4 linked regions of the Homo sapiens genome follow. The protein of the gene in region 2 interacts with the protein of the main gene of each other region in a pairwise test. Each region holds a gene or a part of one and is shown on either strand. Other genes may lie near its edges. The genes, in order: PACSIN1, SNX12, CCT8 and REEP6.

Evidence for each region.
Region 1: the proteins of SNX12 (region 2) and PACSIN1 interact in binary tests that used the Homo sapiens proteins (3 or more experiments, as listed by UniProt).
Region 3: the proteins of SNX12 (region 2) and CCT8 interact in binary tests that used the Homo sapiens proteins (3 or more experiments, as listed by UniProt).
Region 4: the proteins of SNX12 (region 2) and REEP6 interact in binary tests that used the Homo sapiens proteins (3 or more experiments, as listed by UniProt).

Annotation. Positions count from the first base shown.
Region 1 is NC_000006.12:34,525,076-34,532,075, reverse strand, and holds part of PACSIN1 (protein kinase C and casein kinase substrate in neurons protein 1), read right to left. Parts: intron 5,834-7,000; 5' UTR 5,771-5,833; coding exon 5,708-5,770; intron 4,745-5,707; coding exon 4,588-4,744; intron 3,435-4,587; coding exon 3,199-3,434; intron 2,680-3,198; coding exon 2,524-2,679; intron 2,411-2,523; coding exon 2,235-2,410; intron 1,834-2,234; coding exon 1,713-1,833; intron 1,617-1,712; coding exon 1,489-1,616; intron 477-1,488; coding exon 289-476; intron 1-288. UniProt on the Homo sapiens protein: Plays a role in the reorganization of the microtubule cytoskeleton via its interaction with MAPT; this decreases microtubule stability and inhibits MAPT-induced microtubule polymerization.
Region 2 is NC_000023.11:71,058,747-71,067,012, reverse strand, and holds the end of SNX12 (sorting nexin-12), read left to right. Parts: exon of another isoform or gene 1-7; intron 8-2,301; exon of another isoform or gene 2,302-2,425; coding exon of another isoform or gene 2,426-2,428; intron 2,429-4,063; coding exon 4,064-4,159; intron 4,160-5,045; coding exon 5,046-5,170; intron 5,171-5,894; coding exon 5,895-5,997; 3' UTR 5,998-7,766; downstream 7,767-8,266. UniProt on the Homo sapiens protein: May be involved in several stages of intracellular trafficking.
Region 3 is NC_000021.9:29,055,759-29,064,436, forward strand, and holds the end of CCT8 (T-complex protein 1 subunit theta), read right to left. Parts: intron 7,773-8,678; coding exon 7,594-7,772; intron 6,799-7,593; coding exon 6,732-6,798; intron 6,658-6,731; coding exon 6,570-6,657; intron 6,486-6,569; coding exon 6,370-6,485; intron 5,810-6,369; coding exon 5,738-5,809; intron 5,660-5,737; coding exon 5,495-5,659; intron 4,903-5,494; coding exon 4,783-4,902; intron 795-4,782; coding exon 717-794; 3' UTR 568-716; downstream 1-567. UniProt on the Homo sapiens protein: Component of the chaperonin-containing T-complex (TRiC), a molecular chaperone complex that assists the folding of actin, tubulin and other proteins upon ATP hydrolysis.
Region 4 is NC_000019.10:1,493,331-1,499,255, reverse strand, and holds the end of REEP6 (receptor expression-enhancing protein 6), read right to left. Parts: intron 3,963-5,925; coding exon 3,869-3,962; intron 3,788-3,868; coding exon 3,649-3,787; intron 2,972-3,648; coding exon 2,803-2,971; intron 2,666-2,802; coding exon of another isoform or gene 2,585-2,665; intron 2,083-2,584; coding exon 2,045-2,082; 3' UTR 1,329-2,044; downstream 1-1,328. UniProt on the Homo sapiens protein: Required for correct function and survival of retinal photoreceptors. Required for retinal development.

The sequences.
Region 1 (7,000 bases), on a different chromosome or scaffold from region 2:
ACCCAGGCCACGCCCCATTTAGTTCCCTGCAAATCCTCGCAACCCGTCTTCAGATCCTGCCTCTACCCCACCACACACCCAATGCAGGCCCAAGCCTCTCTTTCAGGCACCACCCCTGCCCCACCACACACCCAATCCAGACCCAAGCTTCTCTCTCAGGCACCGCCCCTGCACCACCACACACCCAATCCAGACCCAAGCTTCTCTCTCAGGCACCGCCCCTGCACCACCACACACCCAATCCAGGCCCAAGCCTCTCTCAGGCACTGCCCCGCCCAGCCGTCCTACCGGCCTTAAAGCTGAGCTCGTCCTGCTCCTGGCCGTCATAGTCGTAGAGTGCCCGCACGCGCACTCCCTTGGAGTCGTCCTCAAAGGGGTTGGCGCCCCCGTTGGTCTCACTGCCCCCAAAGGGGTTCCCACTCTCGTCGTCTGACCACTCGGTGGCGTAGGGCTGGCCTCTGTCGTAGCTGCTAACACTGAGACGCGGAGGAAGGAGCCAGCTTCAATGTCTCCCCGTACCGCATCCCGAGGGCTAACCGCTCCTCCTAATCAGAGCCCTGATCCCGAATTCTACCAAGGCTAGAGCAAGGATTGGCCACATAGGAGGGGTGACCCTCATGAGCTCTTTAAACCGATGTTTAAATGCAGGACCATTTGCGTTATTATTCAGCCCTCGAGGGAGAGGGCATTGAAGGGGACCCCAGGGCACATCTGAGCCTTCATCCGGGAGGAGGAGTACCACCTAATGTTTAAGAGCAAGGATCCTGGAGTCAGACCTCCTGGGCAACATATCTGGCTCTGAGGTTTACTAACTAGCAATGTGATCTTGGGCAAGTCACTTAACCTGTCTGGGTTTCAGTTTCTCCATCTGTAAAATGGTAATATTTACGCACTTGAGCATGAATGAGTTAACATATGGAAAGTGCATAGAACCGTGCCACACACAGTAGGTGCTCTAGAAGGATATGCTACCACTATCTTTTAGAGAGGAGGCTTGGTTCCTGTGATCTGGACCGGGGTCCCCAACCCTGGGGCTGCAGACAGTCCGTGGCCTGTTAGGAACCAGGCAGCACAGCAGGAGGTGAGTGACAGGCGAGGGAGCATTATCGCCTGAGCTGCACCTCCTGTTAGATCAGCCGCGGCGTTAGATTCTCATAGGAGCGCAACCCCCCTATTGTGAACTGCGCATGCGAGGGATCCAGGTTGCACGTTCCTTAGGAGAATCTAACGCCTGATGATCTGAGGTGGAACAGTTTCATCCGAAAACCACCCCGCTCCCATCCGTGGAAAAATTGTCTTCCACAAAACTGGTCCCTGGTCCCAAAAAGATTGGGGACGGCTGCTTTAGAGTGATGAACTACCACTATCTTTTAGAGAGGAGACATAGTTGCTATGATCTAGACCATTTCTTGTCTTCTGAAGCAAAACTCAGCTGCCCCAGAGTGTGGGTCCCTCTTGGCCCCAGGAAGCTCCACAGGAGGCACTCACCTGCCGCGGTCCCCAGCCTGGGATGTGGACTCTACCGCCCCAGTGGCATTGGTCAGCGCCACTCCCTCTGCCTTCTTAGGCTGTTTCTCCTTCTTGGTGGTGGTGTGAGGAAGGTCTGGGTTCCACTCCTGGTGGGGCCAGTGGAGCAGTCAGGCTGGGGGACTATGCCCTGAGGCACCTTTCAGCCTCTTCAGGCTCCCCTTCCCATCCCCACATATCCTCACCTCAAACTGGGGCCAGTTCATGGGCATGCCGGGGCCACTGGTGCTGCGGAACCATCTGAGGTCTTCCTGGGCATCAGCCCCCCGGATGGCCTGCTCCAGCTCACGGTACACATGGATGTAGCTGTGCTCAGGGAGATGGGGGAGGTGGAGGGCACAGATTCAACATGGCCCCTCCTCAACCTTGGTGAGAGGCCAGAGTCCACTCAGGGAAGCAGGGTGCTGGGCATGCTGCCCAGCCAGGAATCATGTGGGCTTTGCAAGAATAAGCTCCGGGCATGCTCGGTGGACTCCTTTTCCCTCCCACCTTAGCCATTCACCCATCATCCAGCATGTGTTTCTAGAGTACCCAGTGTGCGTCAGCTTGCACTCAACAGCCCCTGTGTTTGAAGCCTCATCCTTCTTGACCCCTGCAGCTCTGCCTCCCCTTCCCGTCACTGTGATGGAGGGCTGGGATGCCCTGCATGCCAGTCACACCATCTGCTGGCTGTGCCTGTGCCCTCGGTGCCTGCCATGCCCAGGTACCTGCTGTTCTCAGCCAGGTTGAGGTGCCGTTTGATGTCCAGCAGCACCTCCTTGAGGAAGACCAGCCGCTTTTCCTCAAATTGCTGGCATTGCTCAAACACCTGCTCCATGTTCTCCATGTACTGGGGTGTGGTCTTGCCCACATCTTCCAGCACTTTCTCATACTTCTCCTGTGTCTGTGGGCACCAGAGTGGAGAGAGGGTGACACCTAGCCAGGCCTGCAGCTCCCAGCCACCACCCTCTGCAAGGGGCCCCCAGACCCCCTACTGCCATCCCTGCCCGCCAGCACCTTCTGCACATCCTGCTTGCACTTGTCCACTTTGTCCTGCAGCTTCTTTTGCTGCTCAGGTGTGACCGATTGCTCCGTCTTGCTGTTCATCTCCCGTGTCATGGCCAGCTTTTCCTCTTTGCAAGCCAAATGGTAGGCCTTCTTGGCTGCCTCCAGCTGTGGGGAGGGGGGAATAGGGAGTAGGGTTTTCATTTGTGACCAGCAGCAAACATGGTCACCCATTAACTCCTCCCCTGCCCACTCCCTGGGACCTGTGAGCCCACACTCTTAAGAGCCAGAAGGGATGCAGGCCCTGGCTCCAGGTGTTCGGGAGCAGCGCTCCTCCATTTGTGGCTGCGTCTCTGCTTGGCACTGCCTGCTCCCCTGCAGATACCCTCCTGTCAGGCAGTGCAGTGCCCGCCCCATCTGGGGACCCAGGGGCCAATGTGCTCTTCTGCCCCTGCTGGTATCTTTCCTGGGGACAGTGCCCCTTTTTGCCCATGGGTCTCCTTACCCAATGGGCACTGCCTACCCATCTGTGAATATTTTTTCCTGGAAGGCAGTGCTGCTCCCCTGTGGGCACAATCCCAGAGGGCAGTGCCCAGCCCACCCATCCATAGATGCCCTCCCTGGGATCAGCACCCTCTGATCAGACGGGCCCACCCCACCCCGCCCGTGGCAGCACCCACTGAGCACCTCCTTCATCTTCTTGGCCCAAGGCTTCTGGGCCTTGCGGAAGCCATCTTCAGCCTCCTTCGTCTCCTTGAAGCCACCCATGATCTGCTTGTGATAGGCGTCCTTCTGCCAGTTCTTCACCTTCTCCAGGTCCTCATTCAGCAGATTGTTCTTCACCTCCTGGTGCAGCTCGCTCACCTTGTCTGCCTCTGTCATTATGGCACCCCAGGCCCGCTCCAGGCTGCCATACTGTGGGCCTGAGGGAATGGCAATAGGTCACAAGAACCTCATTGCCCCTGCCCAGAGGCCCCCCCTCACATCTCCCTTCTCTGAGGCTTTCCCTTTCCTCTCATAGCAACAGAAATGCCCTCCTCTGCTCTACGTGGCCCCATCCTCTAGGGCCCACATCAGCCACCACCTCCAGGAAGCCTTCCCTGACTGCTCTGCCCTCCTGCCATGGCCAGCAGCCCTCGCTGCATTCTTCTCACAGTATCTGCGGCCATACCTCCCTCCTCCTTATCTCTCTTGTCAGCATGTGAGCCCCATGGAATGGGGTCGGAGGGGGGCAGCCTGGACCCTGTGAGCTCTGACAAGCCCAGCACAGCGCCAAGCACACAGTAGGTGCTCCAGGAATGTTAGCTGAAGCTTGTGACAGATGCCAAGAGGCCACTGGGGACCAGTCATTCCACACTGACTTGTTGTTTGTGTACTGGCACCAGCTCTGTGCAGGGCACTGTGTTAGGTGGTGCAGGCCCAGCCCCTGCTCTCATGGGGTTTAGAGTATACTGCAAGAGAATAACATGAACAAGTATATGTAAACCGCAACTTCAAACTGTTCTAGATTAAAGGAACCTGAAGACACAATGCATAGAGGCAATGTGCGACTGCACTAGATCCTGGACTAGCAAGCGCAATTGCCATGGTAAATGTGCGTATGGGTCGTATTACATGTCCCAAATTTGATAGCTGAACTCTGGTTACTTAAGCAAATGCTCTTGTTCTTAGGAGATACATGAAGAATTTAGGGGTAAACAGGGATAATGGCTCCAGCTTACTCTCAAATGGTTCAGAAAATATGCATATCAATAAACAGTCAGTGAGAAAACGTGGGGCCAGTGAGCCTGGGGGAAGGGTATGTAGGAATTCTCTGTGCTACTGTTGCAACTTTCACAAAGTTTGAATTATTTCAAGATAAAAAGTGTTTTTTTTTTTTTAATTCAACCTAAAATTGTACAAAATAGAGATGAACAGGTAGGCCTGGTTTGATCTAGGAGGGAACAGCGCCTGAAAATGTCCTGTGTCTGGTAGATGGAGGGCATGGTGCATGCAAGTAGCCGGGGCTCCTAGGACCCAGACCTAGGGGGCTCGTGACGGCCTGGGGGCGCGCACGATGTGAGCCTGGGGGAGCACCTTTCTCGATGAGCTGGCGCCAACGCTTGGCCCAGTCGGTGAGCTGCTGCCCGTACGCCTTCTCGATCTTGGCGCGCTCCTGCACGCAGTTCATCAGGTCGTTGCATAGACGGTGGCCGTCATCGATGCGCTTCACGGTCCGCTTGTAGTTCCCCACCTGGCGGCCAAGCAGCGAGCACCACTCCCGCGGGTTCCCAGCGTCCCCAGCCCCGCCCGCCGCATCCAGCACGGCCACGCCCACTGTCTTCCGCCCCGCCTCCCCGCTTACGGCCTCGCCGTCCCCGCCCCCGCCCCCGCCCCCCGCCCCGCGGCGCAGCGGCAACACCCCAGGGAAACTAACTTTCGGAGGCTCCAGCACCCTGCCTCAGGCCCCGCCGTCTACACGCACCCTCACCCCAATTTAAACATGATTTCCTTGCTGCCACAAAATGCAGAAGGATTTTTAGAATTTGGACTTGGGCTGGAATGAATTATTCATTTTGTTTTTGCGAGTTAAATCTATTATATTTATATAGAGTCATATAAGCGTTGAGTTGAGCTGCAGCTTCTTGACATAATATTATGTTTTGTCGACATCTCATTAAACGCTTATTAATTTAGGTTTGGCAGTTTTCGTCTTGGGTTTCCGGAGCCAATAGCAATTTTTTTTCTCCAGGTCTCAAATATTTCCGAAGGTTCTGAAAATGCTGGCTTCTGGCTGTGCCTCCCGCTCTGCGGCCCCGTGGGGCTCTGGGAGCTCACTCCCTCTCTCTGTGTCCGGCGCTCCACCCCTGCCCACCTCAGGATGGGGGGCGAGCGAGGGAAATAGGAACAGCTGAGAAAGGCTGTGCTGTACCTGCCTGATGGAAGTGCCACAGAGTCACAAAGGGCCTGTTCCCACATTGTGAAATGCCACAGGCTCTCTCTGGGGGCAGCTGTGGGGAGAGAGGAGCTCCTGGCTCAGTGGGCAGTGCTCTTAGCCACTTCATGGCTACCGCTGCCTGTTGGACACCCAGGGCTTTGGAGGGGCCTGGGGGACTGCGGAGTGGGGCCTGAGGTCATGGGGTGAGTGATAAGGGAGCCTGGCCTCCAAACAGCCAGGCTGTCTGGTCCCCGAACCTGGGGATCATGAGAGCCTCACCTCCCAGAAGCTGTCGGTGGTCTCCTCTGGCGCCAGTGAGGCCTCATCGTAGGAGCTGGACATGGTGTAGCCGCAGGGGGATGGACAAGTGCGGAGCTGCGGTTAGCAGGCTCGGCTGCTCATGCACTGGGAGGGCAGGAGAGAGATCCCTGGAGATGAGGGAAGGGCCTTCCACCCTTTGCCCCATTCCAGGCCTGGGTCCCCAAACCGATGGGACCCAGGGAGGCTTGCATTAGGATGCCATCTTCCTGTCCAGAGACTAACTCACCAGACTTAGGTAACCCCAAGAGTCGCCCTGTAGCACCCTCATGCCCAACTCCCCATCCCTCCTCCTTCCCCCTCCCTGGAATCCATCCTCTATCCAGTATGAGCACCTCCGTTCAGAAGCCAGCCCCAGCCCCCAGAGCTGGCTCTCTCTCCTGGACTGTTGGAGCCCAGGCTCAGCGCCTCCTCAGTTATCTGAGCCCCGGGACCCTGTAAATGCCCTTCTGTCTGCCCTTGCTCCCAACCTCAGCAGCCCCCATTAGCTTCTTACAAGTCTCCTGAGAGTCCCAAATGTGTGGTGTCCTGGCCCACAGGTCACACCACCGAGATCTATGGGAGCGTCTGGGGTGGCTGTGTCTGCCCTGGATCTGTCGGCAGGCATCAGGGTTATCCAATCTAGGCCGTGCGCTGCCCCAGGGCCGAGGTGGGTACTCCCCTCCTCCCTTCCCCCAGCCAGGCCTCACTGTTACCCCAGGCAAGAATGGCTCAGTAGTCAGGAGCCAGGACTCAGAGGGCCAAGGGCCTGGTTTTCAAAGAGGCAGCAGAGTCCAGGCTGCGCCTGGCCCTGATACAAGCTGCCAGCCTCTAGCTGGATCCCGGCACCAGGGGACACCTCCCTGCTTCTGCACTGCAGTCCCAGGACTGTGAACCCTGACAGTGTGGATGCTCAGGGAAGGCTGGCCTCTGTAAGATTCAGCCCAACCTGGGGGTCCAGCAGTTGGCTCTCAGGCTCAGGGCAGGGGCAATAACACGTAAGAATGGTTGGTGGAGGATGTCCCTCCCCCTAGGGCTCCCCATCTGTCCAGGGCCTGGGGCTCTTTCCCAGTAATAACCCAGTATTGCCTCTTGCACCCCTCAGGCATCTAAACATATTTTGTTCCCTCCCTTTTAGAAGAACCACAGACAGACTTTCCCATAAACTCACGCACAGTGCGGGTGGGTGAGAGGGAGGACGGCTGGATTTCATCAAGGGACAAAGAAATGAGTCTGAATTTTTCTTTTCTTAACTTGGCACTTTTCACTTATAAA
Region 2 (8,266 bases):
AAAGAGTGTATGTGCTTTCATTGTTGAAGGAGTGAATTGAATGAGAAATTGTGGTCTCCTACTTGGGCTTTGAAATCTTATTGAGAAATTATGATTTCCAGATTCCAAGTTTGGCAAAGTCCAAACTGAAGAAAGAAAAGTGAATAGCAAAACATGAGAAACACTTGTCTATATAAGAACTATGTGAAATCATGTCTTTGGGGGAGAATGGAATTTAGGTCCTTCAGAATATGATAAAAGCAGGAAATTGTCAGTGCTGGAGAACTTAGTTACCTGAGGGAGCTTGGGCATGACTAGTACAGCATAAGGGCTGTCTGCTGTGGGGTTTTGGAGACATTCAATGCATTACCCAAGAGTCTTAGGGATTCTGAATGAAATCGCTCTTTACTCAGGGTATTCTTTTTTTTTTTTTTTTTTTTTTAAGAGATGGAGTCTCGTTCTATTGCCCAGGCTGCCGTGCAATGGTGCAATCTCGGCTCGCTGCAACCTCCGCCTCCTGGGTTCAAGCAATTCTCCTGCCTCATCCTCCCGAGTAGCTGGGATTACAGGCACATGCCACCATGCCTGGCTAATTTTTGTATTTTTAATAGAGACGGGGTTTCGCCATGTTGGCCAGGCTGGTCTTGAACTGCTGACCGCAAGTGATCCTCCTGCCTCGGCCTCCCAAAGGGCTGGGATTAGAGGCGTGAGCCACCACGCCTGGCCCTACTCCAGGTATTCTAATAGCAACAGGGACTGTTCATCTAGTGCCTACTGTGTACCAGGCACTGAACTAGGTTTTAATTTGTGTTAATCCTTACAGAACTTCGTTTTACACATGGGAAACTGAGGAGGAATGCAGTTTAAGTAACTTGCCCAAGTACACGTAACTATAACTGACAGGGCTGGAATTTGAACACAAATATGTCTGACTCCATATTCTTTCTGCTACACTTCTGTCTCCTTGACAACACTTAGTAGCAAAACTTTAGCATGCAAAATTTTTCTACTCACTAAACTTTTAATCGGTCCCTTCCACAATTTTTTTTTTTTTCGAGACAGAGTCTCGCTCTGTCACCCAGGCTGGAGTGCAGTGGCATGATCTCAGCTCACTGCAACCTATGCCTCCCAGGTTCAGGCGATTCTCCTGCCTCAGCCTCTGGAGTAGCTGGGACTACAGGCATAAGGCATGGTGCCACCACACCTGGCTAATTTTTTTTTTTTTTTTTGAGATAGAGTTTTGCTCTTGTAGCCCAGGCTGGAGTGCAGTGGCATGATCTCGGCTCACTGCAACCTCTGCCTCCCGGGTTCAAGTGATTCTTCTGCCTCAGCCTCCCAAGTAGCTGGGATTACAGGCATGTACCACCACGCCTGGCTAATTTTTGTATTTTTAGTAGAGACAGGTTTCGCCATGTTGGCCAGGCTGGTCTCGAACTCCTGACCTCAAGTGATCCGCTTGCCTCGGCCTCCCAAAGTGCTGGGATTATAGGTGTTAGCCACCATGCCCGGCCTAATTTTTGTATTTTTAGTAGAGATGGGGTTTCGCCATGTTGGCCAGGCTGGTCTCGAACTCCTGACCTCAAGTGATCCATCCACCTCAGTCTCCCAAAGTGCTGGGATTACAGGTGTGAGCCACCACGCCTGGCCTTGTTTATTCTTTTTTTTTTTTTTTTTTTGAGACAAAGTCTTGCTCTGTCACCCAGGCTGGAGGGCAGTGGCATGATCTCGGCTCACTGCAGCCTCCGCCTCCTGGGTTCAAGCGATTCTCCTGCCTCACCTTCCTGAGTAGTTGGGATTACAAGCACCTGGCTAATTTTTGTGTTTTTAGTAGAGACAGGGTTTCACCATGTTGGCCAGGCTGGTCTCGAACTCCTGACCTCAAGTGATCTGCCTGCCTCGCCTCCCAAAGTGCTGGGATTACAGGCGTGAGCCACCGCATCCAGCCCTTATTTATTCTTTTAAATAAATAATGGTTTAGTAATCTTACTTTATATGAATCTCACTCCATTTCAACCTATTGACATTCCTTGGACCTTGACGATCCTGGATGGAGTTTAATGTACAATTGGCCAGTTATTTGGCTTTTGATGGCCTATTTGAGAACTGGATCCTGAAAAGACAATTTCCAGTGTCAAGGAGTACAAAGCATGATGTAGTGGGTTCTGTGTGAAGCTCTAATGGAGTTTCGAGTTGCTCTTTTCCTGCCAAGAGGCAGTTGTGGAGAAAGGAGATAACTAGTTTATTTTATTCATCCTCTCACCTGAATTGACTGGCAGTAAATATGGTCAGTATTAATACATGTGGTTGGCCATTTCTATTTAGAACTTGTAGACAGGAGTGAAGATCAGGGTTTTCTGTCAGGGGATTCGTGTTGCCACTAGAGCCTTGGGAATCTTCTCAGTGTTTAAAATGTGGGAATGAGCTGATTTATATCAGGGAGCAAGCTATGGTAAGCCAACTTTTGTAATGGTGATTTCTTATGCATTTTCTAGATGAGGAGAGGATAAACAGACACATAGAGTCTCTATTAATCAATTGAGCATTTATTGAGTAACTTGCATATTCTGCATTTTAGAAGATGCAGAAGTAGTCATAGTTTCTGATCTTAATGAGATTAGTTAGTTAGACAAGGCAAACATGATGCATAAAACAATAGTGTATCAGGCAATGCTAAAGTATAACTGTCAGAAGAGTTCAGAGAGGAGGAAAACCAATAAATCCAGTTGTTGTTGTCAGAAAATTTTTTTGTTTGAAGTGAGAGTTGAGTGAGCACTGGTAGAATGGAGAGGATTTGGACAGGAAGAGCAGAGGTAGGCATACCTTGGATGTGTTTATCTCTTTACAGGGAATTTAAATTCACTTTTTAAAGGAAAATGTAATATGTACACATGATAAATTCAAATTGTACAATGAAAAATGTGACTATTCCACCCATTCCAGTTGTCTTCTCTTACTCTCGAAAGTCAATCACCATTACCAGTATATTTTCATAAATACTTTATTAATCAGTATAAATATATACATATACATCCCTTTTTAAAACACAAATAGAGGCAAGCTATATATATATACTGTTCTATACCTTGATTTTACTACTTAATATCTTTCCATACTGGCACATAGAGATCTTTCATTTTTATTTCGAGAGACAGAGTCTCTGTGCCAGATTACAGTAGCATAATCACAGTTCACCATAGCCTTGACCTCCTGGGCTCAGGTGATCCTCCTGAGTAGCTGGGACCACAAGCGAGCACTGCCACTACACCTGGCTTTTTTACTTTTTGTAGAGATGGAATCTTGCTATGGTTGCCCAGGCTGCTCTCAAACTCCTGGGCTCAGGTGATCCCTTGCCTCGGCATCCCAAAGTGCTGGGATTATAGGTGTGAGCCACTGCACCTGGCTTTCACATTCTTTTCATAGTTATTTAATATTCTACTATACAGGTATACCATAATTCATTGTAACCTATTGTCTATTCATAGACATTTATTATTATTATAAATAATAAAATGCAGTGAAACTCTTTTTTTTTTTTTTGAGACAGAATCTCACTCTGTCTCTCAGGATGGAGTGCAGTGGTGTGATCTTGGCTCACTGCAACCTCCGCCTCCTGGATTCAAGTGATCCTTTTGCCTCAGCCTCACAAGTTGCTGAGATTACAAGTGTGTGCCGCCACACCTGGCTAATTTTTGTATTTTTAGTAGAGACAGGGTTTCACCATGTTGGCCAGGCTGGTCTTGAACTCTTGACCTCAAGTGATCTGCCTGCCTTGGCCTCCAAAAGTGCTGGGATTACAGGCGTGAGCCACCAAGCCTGGTGAAAACTCTTATATGTACATATTTACATACTACTGCAAGTCTACTTGTAGGATAAATTCAAAGCAGCAAGGGACTTCTGATCATCAGCTATGATAAGGTTGGATGTGGTAAGGGTTGGTTTTTACCTGGTGGTGATTTGAAGGGGTTATAGGAGCATGATCCATAGGAGCTATTTCTTCATTGGGACCTGTCCAAGTTACTCAGACAGGTGGCTACCACAGGCTGAACATTACCATCTTTCTTCTTTAATTTTTCCTTCCATGTAGACAAACCTACCTATCTTCAAGCTAAAGGAGTCCTGCGTACGGCGGCGCTACAGTGACTTTGAGTGGCTGAAAAATGAGCTGGAGAGAGATAGCAAGGTATGGCTTTGTTCTCTGTGTGGCATCTTTGGAGGAGGAGCTCTGCATAGGCTGAGTGGGCATACAACCACAGTCTATAAAGTCTTGAAGGGAATGAAGAGGGTGAACACATTCTTATCCATCAAATCTCAGTATTTTAGATCGGGGGGATACCTTTTGAAACTTGAAAGTGGTAAGTTCTGGCTGGGCACAGTGGCTCACGCCTGTAATCCCAGCACTTTGGGAGGCTGAGGCGGGCGGATCACCTGATGTCAGGAGTTCAAGACCAGCCTGGCCAACATGGTGAAACCCCGCCTGTACTAAAAATACAAGAATCAGCCAGGTGTGGTGGTGGATGCCTGTAATCCCAGCTACTTGGGAGGCTGAGGCATGGGAATTGCTTGAACCTGGGAGGCAGAGGTTGCAGTTAGCTGAGATCGTGCCACTGCACTCCAGCCTGGATGACAGAGCAAGACTCTGTCTCAAAAAAAAAAAAAAAAAAAAAAGAAAGTGGTAAGTTCAGGACAAGTTTTTTTTTTAAAGTATTACTTCACTTAGTCGCTAGTAAAGTTGTACAACTTAATTCCTGTAGGTGCTAAAAATGGAAAGTCTAGTGTCAGGAAAATCCTAGCTAAATTCTTGAATGGTAGTGGCTTGTTAAGGAAAGTGAGGATTATTTGGAGTTTATTTCCTTCTTTTGAGGTGGTAAACCTGTCTTCCCACAGAAACGGATTAATTTTTGACCTGAGCCATCCTGACTGTTCTTATGGTCTTAGTTCTTGCAAGTTGCTGGCTGTGGGACAGGATGGACCCTATGCCTAATAAGAAATGAGGTACACGGTGCTTTACCATCTCATTCCCACTCTGTCTCTCTCCCATGTGGCTGGAATTTTGTGTGTGCCTGCAGATTGTAGTACCACCACTGCCTGGGAAAGCCTTGAAGCGGCAGCTCCCTTTCCGAGGAGATGAAGGGATCTTTGAGGAGTCTTTCATCGAAGAAAGGAGGCAGGGCCTCGAGCAGTTTATTAACAAGTAAGCCAAGTTCCTGGGGGCTCCACTTGCTACTTTTGCCATCGTAGTCTTTCTATATGTTTTGTTTACCTCACCTTTTATTTTATTTTTATTTACTTATTTATTTATTTGAGACAGAGTCTCACTCTGTCACCTAGGCTGGAGTGCAATGGTGTGATCTCGGCTCACTGCAACCTCCGTCTCCTGGGTTCAAGTGATTCTCCTGCCTCAGCCTCCTGAGTAACAGGGATTACAGGCGCCGGCCACCATGCCCAGCTAATTTTCATGTTTTTAGTAGCGATGGGGTTTCACCATGTTGGCCAGACTGGTCTCGAACTCCTGACCTTAAGTGATCCACCTGCCTTGGCCTCCCAAAGTGTTGGGATTACAGGCGTGAGCCACCGCACCCAGCTCACCTTTTATAATGGGTACCATGATGTGGTGCCAATTGTGTGGTGGGCTGACTGGACAGTAAAACTCCATTCCTTTGAGTAGGATTCTGATCCTGTGTGTCAGGGCCTGAGAAAGCACTGCATGTTGGTTATATCTAGGGATTTCCCTGTCTTGCCCCTCTATCCCCCGTCCCCTTTACAATATTAGGGTTGAGGTGGTACCCTACTGCTGTCCTCTACTGGCTTGAACCTCAGGGCTGACCTTGCCCTTCTTCCCCTGTCCACATCCCCATCCCTCTGCTAATTCTCTCTGATTCTGAATACTACTGATAACCATCCTGGTTTCTTTATAGAATTGCTGGGCACCCACTGGCTCAGAATGAACGCTGCCTACACATGTTCCTGCAAGAGGAGGCAATTGACAGGAACTACGTCCCGGGGAAGGTGCGCCAGTAGGAGCCCCTCTCACCACCTGCCCTCTACTTTCCTGCTGAAATGACATTGGTTTTTACACTAAGCCTCTCTCTGTCTTTGATCTGAAGTTGGCTGCCCATCTCCTGGCCTGATAGACTGTCTGGCATTGTGCTCCCTGGTACCTGACTACACCATGTGGGCACTCTGCTAGGATCCTCTTCTCTGAGGAGAGGTGGGAACCCACAGGCAGATGCCCTTTGCTTGGGGTTGGGGTGGGTGGGTGGGGGGATTAGACTGGAAGGCAATTTCTTGGGCATTTACCCATGCCAGAAGGCTAACCTGGGGGGAGGGGGGCGCTTGTGCTGGTGAGGCACTTGGATACATACTGATGCTGCAAGTTCAGGGGATTTTTCTTACTCTTAGGTTTAACCAAGAACACTGAGCAGGGAAAAACCCTGCCTTTCCTAACTGCATGTATTTTTTCCTTTTTGGAAAGGTGGTAGAGACTCAGAAGCTTTCCTTGTTTTCTTCAGGCCTGCTCCCAGTTTTCTTAACAGTTTCTTTTGTTGCTTTCTCTCTCCCTTGTTGCTTTCCATGGCAGTAATCCTCCTAGAGTCCAAGCAGTCTGTTGTATGGAGCAGGGTGTGTGGGTTTTCTGGGCCCATCATTATGGCTGCTTCAGAGTCAGAAGAAAGCCATAGGGCAGTAGGGGAGCTCCTATTGCCTAGCCCCTCTCCCTTTGTGGCTCCCACTCTAGCTGCCTATTTTTGCTCATCAGCTGGTGAGTCAGTATGGGCCAGCAGTTCTCCCTCCCTAAGCCCTTGCTACTTTATGGGTTAGCTTTGCAGGTTTGGTGGCTTGAGGGGTGGGGGCAACTCACCACTGCCAGGTAACTCCCTGAAGGGTGGGAGTGGATTATCTTCTAGGCTCTTACCCGCGGTAGGGAAGGGCATCAACACTGTCTTCCTTCCATTCTCCTTTCCCCCATCCCATTTAGTGCTGCCACAGGGCAGAAGCACACAAACCAACCACACAGTCTCTGACTTCTCCTAAGCACTTTGAGTTGTTGAATGGGGCTCAGGGGCAAGAGTTTTTGCTGCCCTCCCCAGCGTGGTCACAGGGTTATTGAACTGCCTGCACTTGTTTCTCATGCAACTCCAGCATTTTCCCCAGAAGTTGAACTATGGATAGCAGCTTGGTATGGATTTCCTAAATCTTAACATTTGAAGCAGCTTCTTGAGGCTGGCAACTATCCTGGTTTCTGTCTTGGAGGGGGTGGTTTGTTTGCTGGGGCCCAACGTCTGTCCCAAGTGGTGGGGTGAGAGTAAGTTAACTTTGGTGCCAGGTGAGAGGTGGGGGCTCTTTGCTTAGACTCCCTATCATGGAAAGATTGGAGTTTTCTATGCAGGGCACTGTGGAAAAGGATTGCTGATTCTGACTGACCCTGATCAGAGAGATTAGGATTGTATTTTGACATAGGATTTGGAACCCATCTAAATGTTGAAGTTCCCTGAGACAGCTCTCCAGCTGCTGAGCCTGCGCCAGGGGCTAAGCAGCCCCTAATGAGAGGCTCTGCTCCCTTTCCCACCTCGCCAATGTTGTTGTTGCTGCCTTTTTGATTTGTATCCTCTGTTATAGACATTTTTTAAAAACGATTTCCTCTTTCATTGTGCACAAGTGCTGAGAGTCTGAGGCCCCATTTCTGCTGTGTATATATATCCTGACTCGGGGCTTTTATTCAGCAAACTGTTCATTCTTCTGTCAGACAATGTCATATTCAACTCTGTTCATATTAAACCACTGTGAAGCAAGCCTCTGTTTTCCTGCTTAAGTTGTAAATTTAGTATTCTTTAGTGTCTAGGATATGCTGGGTATTATGCAGAAATCATACAGTGTGGCCAGTGTCCTGAGGTAATGTTTTGCATTTAAATTTTTTTAGAAAGCAGAATCTTAACTTATCTTAATGATATTTACCTATCCTTTTTGCAACTCACAACTGACTTTGTCACAGAGGTAATGCATCTGCTTGCAGGAAGTAGCTGTAGGCTCAGTACCTGTTGTTTGAGTCAGATTTAGCAGATTTGGTTTTTAAGCTTGTGGGTTTGTGCTAATTTGGGCAGAATATATTTATTATATATGTGTGTGTGTATGTGTGTATGTGTGTGTCTGCATATGTAATACATGTACATAAACACACATGCATGTGTTCATCCTCTGACACACCCACACAACACCAACAAACATTTCTTCTATAGGCTTTTTATCTCAACTGACACTGTTTTTTTTCCCAAATAAATTTGACACAGGCAGA
Region 3 (8,678 bases), on a different chromosome or scaffold from region 2:
TATTTATAATAATTTATTTATAATGTTCTTGGCTTTTTCAACACTCCTTACTGATTTTAACAAAATAGAATCTGCTTTATGAAAACTGACTTAATTTTGTATGTCAGTTTATCTATTTTCTAAGCATTTTTTTTGTACTTTGCTAAGTCGAGTGTCTTCAACAAATTATTAATTGCTATTGAAACAAGTCACCTTGAGTCAGGAATTCCAGAGCTGTGACAAAAACACTGGAAATCTAGTCCAGGTGTTGGCAGCACTTTCCTGTAGAGGGCCAGATAGTAAATATTTTAGGCTTTGTAGGCCCATTTGGTCTCTGTCAAAAATAAAGATACTTAACTCTGCCACTCCCTTGTTAGAAAGCAACTGCAGACAATATGTAATGGTATGAGCATGGCTGTGTTCCAATAACTTATTTACACAAACAGGCAGTAGGCCAGATATACATGGGTAATAGGCCTCTACTTACATAAGTGACTTGCCTTAAGTCCCACAGCTAATGTGATTAACAAGGTTGAGAGGAACACAAGTCATTTAGAGCCAATAACCGTGGTCATTAGACAATAAGGCTTTGACAGTAACAATATGTTTATTATAACATCCAGCCAAGAATACAAACACAAAATAACTCTTAATTTAAGGAGAATAAGAAAACATCAGGTGATTCTTGAGTACTACTACAAATACAGCCTTCACCTACAGTAAAAATTAAGCCAATTTCAATCATTTTGGTCATCATCCCAGTCTTTCTTCCCACTTGGAGGCTTGGGCCCACCAGCTGGTTTTGCCATGATGATCTGCATAAAAAAGAATCACACAAGAGTATGCTTATCAACTTAACCTTTAGAATGAAAAGAATGCTTCTATTAGCATGATTTAAGATTAAGCAGTCTTCTTGGTATAATTATGTACTGCATATAAAACACTACAGCACAGAGTTTGCTAGCTCCCTTGTTAGAAATTCAATTGTAAACTTTCAGCGCATGAGAAAGTTTACTGCTTTTATGGATAACCGCAATAAAATCCACAGAGATTAGTGAACATTCCAAGACATGCACTTCAATAACTCAAAAAGCTGAAAGTGAAAATATGTGCATGCATCACTGGTGTAAGTCGGTCAGTTTGGCACCTGATTTGCTATTTATATATGAGATGTGTCTTGCCAACCATCTCTGTCCCAATTTCCTTGTGGTTTAGGAGCTTTAGGCCCACCTGCCAGCTTTGCCATTATAATCTAAAGTAGTTGATACATAAGTATATACAAAGTTTAACACTGAAATTTTCTAAAACCTGTAAATGAGAATCATTCAAGCAGCCAGGAATTTTCATAAACAAAAATCTAAGTTCCCAACTTAAAAAAAAAAGCGCCACAAACCTCACCTTACTTTATCTAAAATAAATAGGTTTTAGCTTTTTTTTTTTTTTTCTTTTTGAGACGGAGTCTTGCTCTGTTGCCCAGGCTAGAGAGTGCAGTGGCGCGATCTTGGCTCAATGCAACCTCTGCCTCCTGGGTTCAAGCAATTCTCCTGCCTCAGCCTCCTGAGTAACTGGGATTACAGGTGCCCATCACCATGCCCGGCTAAGTTTTTACTTTTAGTAGAGACGGGGTTTCACCACGTTGGCCAGGCTGGTCTCAAACTCCTGCATGATCCACCCGCCTCAGCCTCCCAAAGTGTTGGGATTATAGGTGTGAGCCACTGCGCTCGGCTGGAAAACATCTTAATTACCATCTGCAAACCTGAACTGGGCAGTGGCTCATGCCTGTAATCCTAGCACTTTGGGAGGCCAAGGTTTGAGGCCAGGAGTTTGAGACCAGCCTGGGCAACAAAGTGAGACCTAGTCTACAAAAACTAAAAATATATATATATATAAAATATATATATAACATTTGATAATATATATATGATATATGTATCATATATACGATACATATATCATACATATATCATATATAATATATATCATACATATATGTATGATATATATATCATGTATATGTATGATATGAGATATATATGATATATATGAGATATGTATGATATATACATATGTATGATATATACATATGATATGTGTGATATATACATATCAGATATATATGATATATATCTCAGCCAACCATGACAGCACCTGCCTACAGTCCCAGCTATTCGGGATGTTAAGGCAGAAGAATCACTGGAACTCAGGATTTTGAGGCTGTGGTGAGCTGATTATGATTGTGCCACTGTCCTCCAGCCTGGGTGATAGAGTAAGACCTTATCACAACAACAACAAAAAAGATACCTAAACCTGAAATTCTCAGAATAACATGTTACCAATTGAGAGTAATTTCAGACTGAATTAAAGGCATTAAGCATAATTTTAGAACCTAAGTGCACATTGATTTTAAAAAGTAACTAAAAGCTGGGTGTGGTGGCTCATGCCTGTAATCCCAGCACTTTGGGAGGCCAAGGCGGACAGATCACGAGGTCAAGAGATCGAGACCATCCTGGCCAACATGGTGAAACCCCGTCTCTACTAAAAATACAAAAAAAAATTAGGTGGGCATGGTGGCATGCGCCTGTAGTCCCAGCTACTCGGGAGGCTGATGCAGCAGAATTGCTTGAACCTGGGAGGTGGCGGTTGCAGTAAGCTGAGATCACACCACTGCACTCCAGCCTGGTGACAGAGCAAGACTCCATCTCAAAGAAAAAAAAGAAACAAACACTAAAACAAGTAGTTCCCAAACTTTAGTGGGCACCATAATCAAAAGTGCTCATTAAAACAGACTGCTAGGCCTCTTCCAGCATTTCTGATATTGGTGGGTCTGGAGTGACATCTGAGAATCTGTATTTCTTCTTTTTTTTTTTTTTTTGAGATGGAGTCTTGCTCTGTCGCCCAGGCTGGAGTACAGTGGTGCCATCTCTACTCACTGCAGGCTCCACCTCCCAGGTTCATGCCATGCTCCTGCCTCAGCCTCCCGAGTAGCTGGGACTACAGGCATCTGCCACCACGCCCAGCTAATTTTTTGTTTTTTTTAGTAGAGACGGGATTTCACCATGTTAGCCAGGATGGTCTCAACCTCCTGACCTCGTGATCCTCCTGCCTTGGCCTCCCAAAGTGCTGGGATTACAGGCGTGAGCCACCGCGCCTGGCCTCCAAGAATCTGTATTTCTTATTTATTTTTAGTTTTTTAAAAGATGGAGTGTCACTCTGTCAACCAGGCTGGAGTGCCATGATGTGATCACAGCTCACTGCAGCCTTCAACTCCTGGGCTCAAGTGATCCTCCCACCTCAGCCTCCTGCGTAGCTGGGACTACAGGTGTGAGCCACCATACCTGGCTGAGAACTGTCATTCTAACAAGTTCTCAGGTGATGTTGATACTATTTTGGGACCATACTTTGAGAACTAGTGAAATAGACATTCCAACAAAGATTAATCCAGTCCGTACTACACTATCCAATGCTTAAAGCTTGATGTGCAATTCCTTTTCTAGAATATATACTATACAAATTTAGGTTCATTATACTATACACTATATACACAAACTGGTTAATACAGTTGGATGGGTTCTTTAGATACATACTTCACATAGAGTGCAAAGACTGGGGGAACAGATCAACCAACAACTTCCCCTACCATAAGATAAAGCAGACTTCCTAGTTTAAAGCCAAAATTCAAACTGCCTTTGTGACCAAGGGTGGTGGTTATTGTCTTGCTTGAATAATTGACATTCAAAGTTCCTAACACAGTTGGAATTTCTGCGTTCCTTATGCTGCAGTCTACTTAGCTTCTTCCGTCCCTGCTATTTTTGGTTTCCCCTTTTATTCTTAGCCACATTCTAATTTCTAGAATAAGTATTTTCTTAGGTTTCTATTTAAGAACTCAAACATATTCTTCCATTGAAAATCACCTAATAAGCTGACAGAGAAACCCGTTAATCTGGTACATAAACATCTAGTTTCTGCTTATTTTCAATGACTTGAAACTAAATATCCAGTTCCATTTTTGGTCATCTCTTGCTATCATAGTTCTTCCAATAAATTTGTTATAATTACCACCAACTGGTCCTTACTGTACTTAAAAGCTGAAATGTCTTTCCACTGATTTCTACTTAGGACTTACTCCACCTTTAATATGACATATGACTTTTACCTAATGGATGTATACTGTCCCTCTAGCAAATTAAAATTTTCTATTAAGTACTTATAAATAGTCATTGCTTATTAATTACTTCTAGAATTTTGTGGGGAAATGTATTTAATTAAGTTTGCCAGAAAATACCTTTTGGAAAAATAATTATGATTTCAGGTTTACTTCTATATATAGAACAGTCTACCACAATTCTTCAAAAAAAAAAAAAAAAGGGTAGAAATATGATTTTAAACACCTTTAACATCTTTTAGTATCTCAAGCTGTAATTTGTCATAGCAGAAAAAATTTTCAATGCCCAGTCCTCTTATCTGCAGACAGCTAGAGACTCCATTTTCCTTCAAGCTGGTGGTCTGCAATGTCTGCTTGAGAGCTTTATGGTCCTTCCAAATTCCATGTTAGTATTATATATTAAATTTACTCTCTAAATTATTTGTACAAATGGGTTCTAAGGCTAAAAGGTTTGAAAGTTATATATTCAATACAATTTATAATAGAAGAAAAAAATTGGAGGGGGGCACATAGTATCTCTAATAGGTGAGGACTAAGAATCCTTTGAATTAGAACTATGCTATGTTCTAGTTCTGGGAAAATATACTATTAAACAGTATGCAAATGAGTATTTTTAAAGATCAAAATTTCACTTTGCTCACCTGATCCACTCTAAGTACAGTGACTGCAGCATTAGTAGCGAGTTTGATAGCCCAATATTTTCCCAGGTAAGTATCTAGAATACCAGCTTCCAGCATGTCCTTTACAGCAGGGACTTCAGCCTGTCAAACACAATTTTCATCCTTTCATTTAAAATCCTTTTATGTGAAAATGTTTACACCCACAAAAAGCCTCACATAGCTCCTTAAATAGTACTGGAAAGTAACCAAGCACAGTCCTACCTTATAGAGTCATCCTTTAGTATGTGAGGATTGGTTCTAGCACCTCCAAGGATGCCAAAATCTGTGGATGCTCAAATCCCTTACATAAAATGGCATGGTGTTTGGATATAATCTATGCACATCCTCTCATATACTTTAAATCGTCTCCAGATTAATTATATAACATAGTGTAAATAGTTGTTATAGTGTATTTTTAAATGTCTTTAGTTTTTCCAAATATTTTCAATCTGTGGTTGGTTGAATCAATGGATACAGAACTGGGCTGACTACACACTACAGAACAAAAGACTATCAATAAAACAGAAGGAAAATGAAACGTTCCTCCATCAGACAACCTATGTAAAAACTAAGAAAATAATCTGCTCCCAAATCAGAACACTGTTTCTCATTGATATTTCTTTTAAACTCATACTATTTTTAGGTTGTGCATTCCCCAAATAAAGCAATTTAAGTTCAGTGTTTTTTCAAATACCTCAATATCTAATCCAACGTTTTTATTTCCTTCTTGATGTACTGCATAAAGTTTAGAGATTACTTCATTGGCCTTAACTCCAGAGTTTTCTGCCAGTGCGCGGGGAATAGCTTCAAATGCCTCAGCAAACTTCTTAATAGCATACTGTTCAAGTCCAGGACATGTCTAAAACAAAAATGCGTTAATTACTGTCTTTTATTCAAGCAATGGAAAGAAAGTCAATTTATACAGAAAAAGCTGTACCTCTCCATATGATGTGATCTGTTTGGCTAATTCAATTTCTGTTGCTCCACCTCCGGGTACAAGACGTTTATCCTGTATGTAGCGCCCCCACCAAAAAAAAAATGAACACAAAACAAATTCACTAAAAATCAGTTTGCAGTTTTCTAATCTTTTCACATTCCAGTACCCCACCAAACAGGAGTTTTTATCAGTCATTGTTACTCAAATACATATTACAAATTTGGTAAAAATGAGTGGGTGGGGCAAATTTTCTTAGTGCACAGTGTCTGGTGTATGAAAAGGACCAAAGTGAAGAATGGGAATAGTACCGTATCATTTTTGCATATCCACAGATATAGCACTAAGAACTGCTTTAGCAACTAACAGTACATTACAATGGAAAACAACGATAAACAATTTTTTTTAAAGCTCTGTTTTGCTGTTAACTCCTCTGTACAATCTTTTTTGGAAACTATCATATTCACTAACAATGGACACTTAAGTCTTAGGTAAAAACAAAAACAGGTGCTTCATTTCATATAAACCACTCATTCTGAAGTTCTCATGATGTGCAAGAGTCTGCAAACTGTACTTTTAAGACCATACAAATTACTCAGACCTTACAAACTACTAAGAATATTGCTGATACTGACCCTTGTAAGAACTTTGAAAGTATTAACACCATCGTCTACTGCCCTTTCTATGTCATCCATCAGATTGTCTGTAGAGCCTCGAAGTACTATGGTAGAAATGGCGCCATCTTCCTTTTCTATCAAAAAATTAAATATATTTGGTGATTAAATACAAGAAGCTAAAGCCCTACACTTAAACATGTTTTACCATTCCTACATACCATGCTTAAAAACCACCACCTGAGTATCTCCAACTTCTGAGAGGTAAACACTGTCACAGTGTCCCATTTCTTCAAGGACAGGAGGTGTCTGTAAGAAAGTGACTGTTGTAATAAAAATTCCATCTTGTTCAACTATCTTTTAGTGTTTTCCAAAATACATACCAATCTAGGAAGAGCTGTAGCACCAACAGTTTTACAAAGTCTTCGGAGATCCCATTTTGAGTTTAGCCTTTAAAAAACACAAAGACCTTAATAAAAGTTTTAATCAATTTCAGATAGCATATAAAGTTCAAATTAAAGAGGAACCTGTATACCAGCCCCCATGTCACATTCCTTTGACAATGGATTTTAACTCAGAACATGTCTGGATTGCAATGAACACTAAGGCCAGGAAGCTGATTCCTGACTCTCTGAGTGAGTCCAGCTGGCCAATAGTACCACATCTTAAGCCTGTGTTGTATGGCATTGTTCTAGAATTGGGAGAATGGAAGTCACTTTAGGATGTCAGTGGTTTATAGTTCTAAAACACCAGAGAAACCCTTACAAAACTCAACAGCATATAGAAAATTTTTGCTTTACTTTGTGCAATCAATGTTCTGTGAACAAGAGTGATTTATTTTGCACATTTTATTAGGTACTAGGGATGGTGGTAGGTAGAAATGGGTTAAGTTGTCTAGTGTGCACCATAAATGTGTTCATGGATTAAAAGGGATCTTCCTGACTCCATACTCTGATAGGCAATGCACCAAGCTTGTGTCTAGTCTCTTGGACAAGTTGTTCCTTTTGCCTGGAATGCTTTTCCCTCTTCAATTATCTGGTAATTGGTTCTTCAAGCTCTCAGCTTAAATTTATGTTTTCTCAGAGGTGTTTCCTGACCCCTCCCCAAACTAAATCCTTCTGCTATTTGACCTAGTACCTTTACTTTCCCTTTATTAACAGTCTTCATGGTCTATTTCGTTTAGTGTTTTCACCACCAAAAAACCATTTATGATATAGGTAAAAAAAAAAATCGGCTTTTTCTTACCTCACTAACATGATATTATATTTATTTGCATAATGAAGAGCCATGTCTGCCACTTTGCCACCTGTTACTACGACATTTGCACCAGTATCAGCAATAGCTTTGACTTGTGCATCCATGAGGTTTTCTTCTCCCTTACTAAAATTCATCAATTCTTCAGCAGTCTTTATCAACACTGTTCCCTGGCAAAACAAGTAAACATTCCCTTTAAAATCATTTCACTACGTTGGTGTTCAAAGTCATTAGATAATAGTTGACTGAAGAAATAAAGGTTTGGCAAAAAAATATGAAGATATATGTGCATATATTATGAAGCAGCAGAATACTGTATGTGTGAAATAGAAACTCAGCTTGCTTCTAGAACCCCCTGTCAAAACAGATGCATCTGCTTTTGATAAGTACTTAGGTGGAAAAGTACTTTTATCTATTTATTTATTTTGAGACAGAGTCTCACTCTGTCACCATGCTGGAGTGCAGGCAGGATCTCGGCTCACCGCAACCTCTGACTCCCTGGTTCAAGCGATTCTCCTGCCTCAGCCTCCCAAGTAGCTGGGATTACAGGCAAGCGCCACCACGCCCAGCTAATTTTTGCATTTTTAGTAGAGACGGGGTTTCACCATGTTGGCCAGGCTGGTCTTGAACTCCTGACCTCGTGATTTGCCTGCCTTGGCCTATGCTGGGATTACAGGCGTGAGATACCGTGCCCGGCCGAGAAGTGCTTTTATTTTAAATATGTCAGGTAGGTAGGTGTCCTGGTGTTTGTCTTTTGACAAAGGCTAACTAGTGTTCCCAATACAACATTGTGGTTCTCAAACTTTTTCTAAAATGTGGACTAGGCCGGGCGCGGTGGCTCATGCCTGTAATCCTAGCACTCTGGGAGGCCAAGGCGGGTGGATCACTTGCAGTCAGGAGTTGGAGACCAGTCTGGCCAACATGGTGAAACTTTGTCTCTATTAAAAATACAAAAATTAGCCAGAGATCACTTGAACCCAGGAGGCGGAGGTTGCAGGGAGCCAAGATTGTACCACTGGACTCAAGCCTGGGTGACAAAGCAAGACTCTAAAAAAAAAAAAAAAAAAAAAAAAAAA
Region 4 (5,925 bases), on a different chromosome or scaffold from region 2:
GTGGGGGGGTCAGCCCCCCGCCCGGCCAGCCGCCCCGTCCGGGAGGTGAGGGGCGCCTCTGCCCGGCCGCCCCTACTGGGAAGTGAGGAGCCCCTCTGCCCAGCCACCACCCCGTCTGGGAGGTGTACCCAACAGCTCATTGAGAACGGGCCATGATGACAGTGGCGGTTTTGTGGAATAGAAAGGGGGGAAAGGCGCGGAAAGGATTGAGAAATCGGATGGTTGCCATGTCTGTGTAGAAAGAGGTAGACACGGGAGACTTTTCATTTTGTTCTGTACTAAGAAAAATTCTTCTGCCTTGTGATCCTGTTGATCAGTGACCCTACCCCCAACCCTGTGCTCTCTGAAACATGTGCTGTGTCCACTCAGGGTTAAATGGATTAAGGGTGGTGCAAGATGTGCTTTGTTAAACAGATGCTTGAAGGCAGCATGCTCGTTAAGAGTCATCACCACTCCCTAATCTCAAGTACCCAGGGACACAAACACTGCGGAAGGCCGCAGGGTCCTCTGCCTAGGAAAGCCAGAGACCTTTGTTCACTTGTTTATCTGCTGACCCTCCCTCCACTATTGTCCTATGACCCTGCCAAATCCCCCTCTGTGAGAAACACCCAAGAATGATCAATAAAAAAAAAAAAAAGTGTCTCCAGACAAGACCCAAAGGCCGGGGGACAAAACTGTTCTGGGTTGAGAATAACTGAGTTATGGCCCCTTGGGAAAATATATCAGGGTTTGTGGTTTATCCTACTCACTTTTTTTTTTTTTTTTTTTTTTGGAGATGGAGTTTCATTTGTTGCCCAGGCTGGAGTGCAGTGGCGCAATCTCAGCTGACTGCAACTTCTGCCTCCTGGGTTCAAGCAATTCTCATGCCTCATCCTCCCAGGTAGCTGGGATTACAGGCATGTACCACCATGCCTGGCTAATTTTTGTATTTTTAGTAGAGATGGGGCTTCACCATTTTGCCCAGGCTGGTTTTAAACCCCTGACCTCAGGTGATCCACCTGCCTCAGCCTCCCAAAGTGCTGGGATTACAGGTGTGAGCCACCGCACCCAAATGGGGGAGTTTTAAGAGAAGCAGGCTAATGCAAATAGGCCAGACAACTAGTTCGGGAGGGAGGAGAGAAAGCACTGTGATTAAGGACAAGCTTTTCCGGGGCTTGCACCCATCCTGGCCATGTGGGTGGACCTTGAGTGGGTGAATTAGCCTCTGGGCCTCAGTCTCCTCATCTATATTATGGGGCTGGTCGGCACAGCCGGGATTCATGCCTGATGAAATGGGACGGTGCCCTCGCAGCCCCTCCCCTGGGCCCCCCGCACACGTGGCACACAGGTCTGGTCCGGGTTAGCTTTATTGGAGCCTCCTAGCAGGCCAGGTGTTTCAGGCACCAGTAGTGCTGCAGGCACGGGGGCCTGTGGTGTGGCCAGCTGCAGGTGATCTCGGTGGTGGACTCCGAAGTGTACTCCAGAGAGGTCCCGGAATGGCAGGGGACCAGCTCGGGCACTGAGGCGCTGCTGGCAGGCTGTTTCGACGATTCCTTCTGGCGCTGTCCGCTGGTCTTGGGGGCTGCGTCCTCCGGCTTGCCAGAGGACTTGCTGGGGGGCTGCGTGGGGATGTTGCTGCTGCTGGGAGACTGGACCATGGGTGAGACCGGGCTGGAGGTGACGTTGGGTGGCTGCAGGGGCCCCGAGGACGGGAGGGCTGACTGGGAGGGGCTGGAGGAAGTACCAGGCGGCTGGGTGTGTTGCCGAGACCAGTGGGAGCTGCCCTGTGCCCGACGCTGGCCCTGGGCCCTGCCGGACAGGCGGGAGCCACAGCCAGAGCCAGAGGGCAGCTGGCCCTGGGATCCAGAGCTGGGGGTGGCCGAGGACTGGGACTGGGACTTGCCCGAGGTGGCATTTAAGGAGACCCCCAGGGCCTTGCCTGGACCCGAGGGACTGGCAGGGGCTGCTGTTGGGGGATGCGCTGAAGACTCTGTGGAGGCCTGGGAGCCTGGCGCGGCCCCCTCCTCACCAGCCAGGAGGTCCTTGTGAGGCTCAGGGGGCTGCTTCACTTGTCCTTCGGCTGCGGGGTCTGGCTTGGCTTGACTGCAGAGAGAGGGGCGGGTGGGGGAGGGCCGTGAGGCAGGCCTGGGCTCCCCGGAGCTGCTCGCAGGCGGGACTGAGGCTACTGGCTATGAGCATGACAAGTCGAGGGGCCGGGCAGCCACCCTCAGCAGAGATGGTGTCAACCACACAGAGGCTTTCATGGTCACCCATGCACAGATGGGTGCACACAGAGCACACGCATGTGCAGTCATGCACACGCACGCACTCACACGTGCACACATGGTCACACGCACACACATATACTCACATGCACACGTGGGCACACACACACATATGCACACGTGAGAAAACATGCTCACTCCCTTGCTCACTCACACACCAAACATACACTTGAGCCCATGCACACGCACCCTCTTGCACATGACAAAACATGCACACACAATAATACATGTGCACACAGCAAACATACGCTCAAACACACGCGCGCGCGCGCGCACACACACACACACACAGCTCCTATCTCCCCACAGCGGTTACGTACGGTCAGCTTCCAGGGGAGTGGAGGGCCCGGCCACAGCCACCGGGGTGATGCCTGCCCGGCTACGGGCCAGGACCTGCAAGACTGGTTCCCGGAAGCGTGAGAGAGAGAGGCGGACAGTGAGAGGGGGCGGCCAAAGTCAGAAAGGGAGGCAAGGTGGAGAGAGACAGGTCCAGACCCGGGAGATGGCCTGAGGCAGCCAGGCGCCTGCGAGCACCCACCGTTCCTGGTTATTCCGGCCGCCGCGTCCAGGGCTCGCCCGCTGAGGTCGTTCATGATTCTGTCTACGGCCCCGTGGTGCCTTAGGAACAGCGGACGCACGACGCGCTGATACAGCATGAGAGCCCCGTTCCAGGGCCTGGGAGCCATGCAGAACAACAGGAAGGCGCACTGCAGGGCGGGGCAGGAGTTACACGCGGGCCCACCCAGCTCTGTGCCCCTGGTGGGGAGAGGGGCTGCACCACTCCACCAGATGCCCATCCTGGACAGGCACTGGGTCTCCACCATCAGACACCCTTTAGGGTGGGCCCGCCACCATCAGACGTCCTATTGGGATGGGCCTGGGTTTTCGCCATCAGATACCCTCTAGAGTGAGCCCTCCACCATCAGACGTCCTACTGGGACAGGCCTGGGTCTCCACCGTCAGACACACTTTAGGGGTGGGCCCTGTGCCATCAGACATATTATTGGAATAAGCCTGGGTCTCCACCATCAGACACCCTTTAAGTGAGCCCTCCACCATCAGACATCCTATTTGAGCAGGCTTGGGTCTCCACCATCAGACACCCTTCAGGGTGGGCCCTCCACCATCAGACATCCTGTAGGGTGAGCCCTCCACCATCGGACATCCTATTGGAGCAGGCTTGGGTCTCCACCATCAGACACCCTTCAGGGTGGGCCCTCCACCATCAGCCCCCGGACAGGGCTCGTTTCCCCAGGGAAGGGACTGAGTCTTCCCCTCACATCCCCCATCTCCTGGTATCCTCCGGACTTTCTGGCCCCAGCGCCTCCCAGGAATCCCCAAGCCCCATGCGCTCCACGGCTGTGCCCGCCCTGGCAGGGCCCACCTTGCCCACGTAGTAGAAAGGGAACCAGGACAGGAGTAGATCGCTGAAGAACTCGGCCAGCCCAAACAGGGCGTACACCACCCAGTAGGTGAGCCACACAGTGTCGTCGTCCTTGCTTGGGCTCTCGATAGCTTTGATTCTGCAGGGAGGGTGCAGCAGGGTCAGGGGCTGCCAGGGAGCCCCCAGAACCCCCCGCGTGGGCAGCCAGCCGTGCACTCACGAGGCATATGCGGGGTACACAAATCCGATGAGATTGCACAGCAGAGACGCTCCGTAGCCGAACAGCAGATACAGGCTTAGCAGAGTGACGGCTCCTGCCGGAGAGAGGCGGTGGTGTGCCAGGGCTGGGGACCCGCTGAGCCCCCACGACGGTACCCAGGCCGCCTTTCAGTCGACGAAGACTGCAACCGTCACCTCCTCCCAGGAGCCGCCTCCAGGATATGTCCACTGCCCCTGATGTGCCTGTACATCCCCCATCGTGCCTCTAGGCCCTGAGCCTTGTGCCTGTAACTGGTCAACGTGTCCATGTCCCCCACCGGGGTTGAGAGCTCCCCAAGGGCAGGCAGGAGCTCGACGCTGGGCAGTGGGGGTGGGTGCGGAATAGCTGCCCAGTGAAGTGTTTGCAGCCGGGCGCGGTGGCTCACACCTGTAACCCCAGCACTTTGGGAGGCCGAGGCAGGTGGATCACGAGGTCAGGAGATGGAGACCATCCTGGCTAACACGGTGAAACCCCATCTCTACTAAAAATACAAAAGATTAGCCAGGCATGGCGGTGTGTGCCTGTAGTCCCAGCTGCTGGGGAGGCTGAGGCAGGAGAATGGCGTAAACCCAGGAGGCGGAGCTTGCAGTGAGCCAAGATCGCGCCGTTGCACTCCAGCCTGGGTGAGGCTCCGTCTCAAAAAAAAAAAAGTGTAATCTGCAACGATAGCCATCTCATTCCAGGCCCTTTGGGAGGCACTGGGAAAACAGGCCAGTGTTTCAATATAAGGGATGGCAGAAACCTGCAAGGGAGGCCAGGCTGTCATGAAGACTTGATTCTAGAGCTGAGAAAGGCAACTGTTTCATCTGTTATCTTAGCGCAGGGTTTCTCTGCCTTGGCACTGCTGATGTTCAGGGCCGGGTCATTCTTGGTTGTTTTCGGTGGAGAGGGGGAAGTGGCTGTCCTGGACACTGCAGGGTGCTGAGCAGTGTCCCTGGCCTCTGCCCACTCCATGCCATCAGCCCCCAAGTCATGACGACTACAGGTATCTCCAGACATCACCCAGTGTCCCCTGGGGCGGGGTGGGGGGCAGGGCTACCCCCTTTGAGAACCTCCTGTCTTGGAGGCAGCAAACCCCAGCATCTCGATCCCCTGGGTGGAGGAGAGCCCTTTGGTCGGGTGTGCACTCACCAGCCGGCACTGAGTGAGGCTGTGGCTGCATGGAGCCTCAGTTTCCCCCTTGGTAAGTGGGAGTAGTAATGGCCCCTGCCTCCTATGGTTACAAGTTAACAGAGAGAACGCCTTTCTGCACGTTTATTTCTATTTATTTTCGAGATGGAGTCTTGCTCTGTCACCCAGGCTGGAGTGCAGTGGCGCAATCTCAGGTCACTACAAGCTCGCCTCCCAGGCTCAAGTGATTCTCCTGCCTCAACCTCCTGAGTAGCTGAGCGTACCACCATGCCCAGCTGATTTTTGTATTTTTAGTAGAGACGGGGTTTCACCATGTTGGCCAGGCTGGTCTCAAACTCCTGACCTCAGGTGATCCGCCCGCCTTGGCCTCCCAAACTGCTGGGATTACAGGCGTGAGCCACCGCCATCAGCCTTTCTGCACATTTATTAAGTGCCTTCAGGCAACTATAACACAGTCCCAGCAAGGAGGGTGTTCAGAGAAAAACGTGTGTGTGTGTGTGTGTGTGTGTCCAGCTCAGCCCCAATCCTGAACCTGGCTCTGAAAAGAATGACTACGACAGCTGCATTTATTAAGCGCCTATTGTGTGCCAGGTTTTGTGCTTTTCCTGAATTATTCAACAGCCAAAACTGGGGGTGGGTGGGTGTTGCCCAAGGTCACACAGGGAACCTATGTGCTCCAGAGAGCTTGGACAGCCTTCTTCCTCCTCCCCTGGGGCTGCTATCTGCAGAGTGAGATAGAGGCCACTTCTGGACCAAAGGGCAGAGGCCCAAGTCCCCCCAGCCCCTCCCACCTGCTTTAGTCTTTATCCAAAAGCACCCAAGGTCAGGGGTAGGAGGAGTCCCCCAGCTGGTCCCAGGAGTGGCCTCCCAGTCACTGTCCCCTCTGA